Regions from separate parts of the Homo sapiens genome. Here region 2 is linked to region 1. The links come from fine-mapping of genetic effects on gene expression. Tissue or cell type: whole blood. Region 1 holds a variant in brackets; the other region holds the start of a gene. All regions are shown on one strand. Distances are between the middles of the regions.

Region 1 (2,680 bases):
GGGTCCTCAGGAGAGAGGAAATTTCCTTCTATTTATTTTCGACATCCTCGACTTTGAAAGCCAAGCTGGTGTTGATATTTACCTTGGCCAGGCCTCCCATCTCCCCGGGCCAGCCTCGTGTAAACATGCTGTTCCTTCTCTCAGCTCTGCTAGCACTGAGGTGGCCTTTTGCAACCAATTCTAGGAATTTGGAAGTCTGAAGGCGTAGGTTCAGGGACTGGCCCTCCAGGGAGCCCTGGGTGCCAGGGGCCCTGGGACCTGCTGTGCTGGCCTTGGGCTCTCTCCCTGGGGGCTGACACCAAGGACTGCAGGGAATGAATGGGCCTGGGCCCATGGGGGTGTCGGCCAGGGTGGCTCTTGCTGGGTCCCTCAGTTCTCCTCACAGCCACGTTGGGGCCTCCTGCTCCCCAGGTTCACTGCGAGGCTCAGACTCGGAGGACACGCATTGAGGGACTGTGGCAGGATCTGGCTGTCTCCACTGTCTTTGCTCCAGGCCACCTCCACCCTGGCTGGTGGGGAGGGCTTGCTCTTGAGCCAGCTCTCTAGTGTGAGTTGGGAGTGTGGGCAGCTGGACTACAGTTAGAGGGAACATGGAGCAGGTGCCCAGGGTGCAGCCTCCCAAGGCAGCACGTGCCCATGCCAGAATTCCTGCCCTCAGGGAGCTTGCCTTCCAGAGGGCAGGTGGACCACAAGGAGAACAAGCTGGCTTGGGGTGGGGGTGAGTGCTGCAGAAGCCAGGATGAGCAGAGGCTGGCTGGGTCAGGGACGGTCCCCCGAGGTGGACATGCAGGAGGTGAGCAGAGGCACATTCCCCAGTGCAAATCCCAGCCCTCCCCTGTTGGTTCCACCAGGTGGTTCACACACTAGTGACGCCTTGGCAAGTCTGAGATTTGGTTTCCTTGTACAGAAATGGGGTGACAGTCCCTCAGAAACAAGGGAGTGGTTCTGCAGGTGGGAGCTGCCATGACTGCTGCGGTTTTGAAGCATCTGTGTGCCCCCCACCGGGCAGTGGGACATCTCGGCTGAGCCTCTCCCCTTCTCCATGCAGATCTGGGACATGAGCGATGATGAGACCATCTGAGATGGCCCCGCTGTGGGGCTGACTTCTCCCCGGCCGCCTGCTGAGGAGCTCTCCATCGCCAGAGCAGGACTGCTGACCCCAGGC[C/T]TGGTGATTCTGGGCCCCTCCTCCATACCCCGAGGTCTGGGATTCCCCCCTCTGCTGCCCAGGAGTGGCCAGTGTTCGGCGTTGCTCGGGATTCAAGATACCACCAGTTCAGAGCTAAATAATAACCTTGGCCTTGGCCTTGCTATTGACCTGGGACTTGGTCCTCCATGCAGTTTTTATTTCTTGTCACAGTGACTGATAGCCATCCCCCAGGATCCTTTCCCCTTGGCCCTGAGGGGGTGACCCAACACAGACCAAATGGGGAAATGAGCAACCAGCTCCTGCCCAGAGCCACTGCGGGAGGTGGCACCCTCATCCCCGGAATGTGCTGCCCACCGCACCGCAGGCTCCTCCTGTGGGGGCCCTGGGCATGGGTGAGGGTGGGACCCCGTGAGCGCACTGCACCCTGGCCCTGGTGGAGCGGGAGGAGGAGGAGAGCCGAGCTGGGTACGAGACTAAAGGGCCCACATGACCCAGTGACGCCAGATTTCCACCAAGGACTGAGTGAGCTGCTCAGACATGGCTTTCTGCCTCCCAGCCTGTCCTCCACTGTGGGCATAGCATCTGTGCCTGCCTGCCTGCTTGAGGGAGAGGAGTTTCTGCTGCTGCCTTGAGCTGGGGGGAAGAGCCCAGGGGCAGATCCTGGCAGCTGCCTGGATGGGGCTCCTCCCTGCCCTTATGAGCAGGCCAGGCCCAGAAAGGCCGAGCCTGGGCTGCCTTCCTGCCCCAGCCGAGGGAGGGGTCAGACGGCTCTACCATGGGTAACTCAGGCAAGAGCTGGTTTTCCTCTTTATTCTGGGTGTGTGCAGCTGTGAGGCCCCAACCCAGGAGAGGCCATGGCCTAGGTACCTGTGACCACCCTGCCCCCGTGTAGAGGGCATCGTCTTTCCTGCTATTTTATTCTTTCAGCTTTTGTCTTAGGCCCAGAATCAAAGTGAAAATTGAGTCGAGCTGACCCTTACAACAGTAGGATTTAGTAGGGTAGATTTCAAATGAGGCTTCGCTTCTCCCAAAGTAGCCAGTCCAAGTTCCAGTGGCTGTCGTTCAGCTCATGGGAGCTTCATGGGGACACAGCCGGCACAGGTGCAGGGCCCGAGTCCGCCCACCCAGCCTGGCGCTGAAACTGCACACGTACACTATGTGGTTTAAGAGCACTTTATTATTGTTCTTAAGGCTACTTTTAAGTACAAAAAAAGATGGCCTGCCAAACCTTTTTTTTTCTTCTTCCAGGAAAAACAGGCCACAGAGAATGGTATATTACAGATTTACACACATGAAGAGAAGGTCAGAGCGCACTGCAGGCAGCGCGGCTCTGGGAAGAACTTCACGGAGCCCCTTCTTAGAGCAGGGAGGGGGCTTTCTCAGTGAAATGTTTGGTTTTCTGCTGCCTCCTCTGCCCCAGGCCCCCCTCCAGGGTACTGCCTATCCCAGATAGGTCAGTGCACCAGGGACCCGGCCGCCAGCACCGCCGACCCCTCCCAGAGTGACGCCCTTGTTCACTGACAAAGAGACCTG
Region 2 (2,680 bases), 280 kb before region 1:
TGTCATCAGTTAAGGCTATTTTCACTTCTGCGGATCTTCAGTTGCTGCAAGCCATCTGGATGTATACGTGCAGGTCACTGGGGATATGATGGCTTAGCTTGGGCTCAGAGACTGACACACACAACCCCTACTGAGAATAGGTTGGCCTCAAGATAAAACATTCTCTAATCTACTATCTGATCAAGCCACCCCTTCATCCCACTTCCCATATTCGGTTGTTTCCAGCCTTGTTTACCTGCCTTTGGGGAGGGTGGGGGGTGGGGGAACCCTCTTTTTCCCTAACCATTGAAACATCTGCGGATGTTTTGGTCAGAGTGATCTCACTATTGCAATAGTCTCCCTCTGCTATTGCACGGTTCCTTCTCTCCCACCTCTCTCACTTCTTGCAGTAATCCTTTCTTTTTTTTTTTTTTTGAGACGGAGTCTCGCTCTGTCGCCCAGGCTGGAGTGCAGTGGTGGGATCTCGGCTCACTGCAAGCTCCGCCTCCCGGGTTCACGCCATTCTCCTGCCTCAGCCTCCCAAGTAGCTGGGACTACAGGCGCCCGCCACCACGCCCGGCTAATTTTTTTGTATTTTTAGTAGAGACGGGGTTTCACCGTTTTAGCCGGGATGGTCTCGATCTCCTGACCTCGTGATCCGCCCGCCTCGGCCTCCCAAAGTGCTGTGATTACAGGCGTGAGCCACCGCGCCGGGCCTGCAGTAATCCTTTCTAATAAGTATCCTTATTAGTCTGGATTTGTTTTCTTATTTGCCAGAATCAAACAAACTTCAGATTACGTTCCTGGCCCAAAAGCCCTTTAACTTTCAGCAAGCCACCTAACTTTTCTTAGATTCTGTTCTTTCATATATAACTTGGGGATATGTTTCAGGACTCTTGTGAGGATTAGAGATGTAAAACCCTGAAAACATGGTGGCTAGTTAATTAATAGCAGTCATCGCTCTTGTTGTTATGAGTCTAGAGTGGTATATCAGAGTTAATTTGTGAAAGGCCTTACAGGCCAGACAGAGAAACTTGTCATAATCACTGCTGTATCTTCAACACCTGTCCAGTGCTTTGCACGCGCAGAGTATCTAACCAAGTATTGAGAGGGAATAACTTTATCTCACTGACAGTGAGGAGCTGTGAGAATGATGGCTGGTTTAGAAAAGGCAGGTTGGTCACTGTCGACGTTCACTGGCCTTTTCCTACTAAAATTCTCATCTCCTGGCTCTCCACACCTGCCACCCTGATGGCCCCTGTGCTGCGTTTGATGCCGCCTCTCCTGGAGAATGACCATGGTGATCATTCCTGTCATCCTCTGAAATCAAAAGAGAGAACGTGGGCACTTTCTTAAAAGCCTGAAGGGAATGTAGACATTCCGACATCTGGTAAGGGAGACGCTCTCCATCGCTTCCCCCGGGGGCGTCACCGCCCCCTGATGCCCCGCCCTCCTCACGACTCAAGTTCCTCCCACTTAGCTCGGTGCTAGGGGCGCATTTCCCCGGCATGCCTCTGCTCCTTTGCGCACGCGCGCCGCTTCCCAGTGGCAAGCGCGGGCAGGACCGCGTTGCGTCATCGGGGCGCGCGCCTCAGAGAGAGCTGTGGTTGCCGGAAGTTGAGCGGCGGTAAGTGAGCCGCGGCGGGCGAGGGTGTAGTGGGGTCTTGCTGGGCCGGTTTTGGAGGCCTGGAGTCAAGGGGCGAGCTCGCCAGGGAGGGCGAGGGTCACAGCAAGTCTCAGGATCCTCCTCTGCCAGTTTCTGGGTGGTCCTTCCTCCTCCAGGGACTCACTGATTCCGGCTGGCGCCCTTCGTCTGTAGCCGCGTCCCCTCAGACTGGTTCAGTCCGGGGTCTTCTGACTTGGAAGCTCGTGCTGATTTCCTAAGTCAGCCCCTCCTGTCCTCTTGGTAGGCAGTGCTCAGAATCTTCAGTGTTGGAACACGGGAGATGGGACATTTGGATTCCCAGCCTGGCTGTGTCTGGATTTGCTGTCTCTGGCACGTTCCTTCCCCATCTAAGCTGCTTTTCCATCTGCAAAATGGGAATGATAATCCGCCATTTGTTTAAGTGAGGAGGTTAAATAAGTTTACTTTCTGAGAAAGAAGATTCTCGATTCCTTGGTTACAGGGTTAGAAACTAATGCACAATAAGAATCAATCCGGTAAGGTAAATATAGGTGTTAGAACATTTGTCAGAAATAGAGTCAAACTTCTAATTTTATAAGTACAGTACTAACGTACATGATGTTGGAGAAGTACAAGCCAAACCGTGTGTGTGTGCACGTGCGTGCAGTTTCCTGATTTTTAAACACTGGCGACTGATGCCATTTTTTAAAAATTGGCAAGTAATTCTGGCGTTTAAAAACATTGGCAACTCAGTTTTTACAAAACCCTGTTCAACTGTAACCAGTCATATCTGTGGCTGTCAGTTTGGGACCTCTGGATCCCAGACTCCCTTTTTCATTGACTACTTAGATTTTTTTCTCTGACACCTCTGCCCACTGGCCAGATTTCTTCAGTGACAGAAAGCTTTCTACTTCTGGTTGCTCCTGTTTGGTCCTCCCCCAGTTCTGACTCTTAGGTTGAGCTGAAAGCAGCTACTCGGTAATCTTAGCTCACTGTTCCTCCTTCAGGCTCTTGGAATCACCCCTGCATTTAATTGCCCTATACATCATTGAAAGCTGCTAGTTTGTCTTCCTCTTC

Evidence for each region. PIP is the estimated chance that this variant, and not a neighbour inherited with it, causes the effect.
Region 2: it holds the start of ATG7, and the variant in region 1 is fine-mapped to the expression of ATG7 in whole blood (TOPMed, PIP above 0.99).

What each region holds. Positions count from the first base shown.
Region 1 is chr3:11,553,763-11,556,442 of GRCh38, forward strand. ATG7 (autophagy related 7) reads left to right here. Exons shown (of 21, transcript NM_001349232.2): 21 at 1,049-2,680. The coding sequence ends at 1,081. VGLL4 (vestigial like family member 4) reads right to left here. Exons shown (of 5, transcript NM_001128219.3): 5 at 2,307-2,680. Among named protein-coding and RNA genes, the nearest start is that of VGLL4, 89 kb to the right of the region's middle. The variant C/T (reference allele first, on the strand shown) is at 1,166.
Region 2 is chr3:11,270,825-11,273,504 of GRCh38, forward strand. ATG7 (autophagy related 7) reads left to right here and starts at 1,573. Exons shown (of 21, transcript NM_001349232.2): 1 at 1,573-1,606. RefSeq lists enhancers at 1,171-1,220, 1,177-1,768, 1,491-1,620, 1,769-2,358.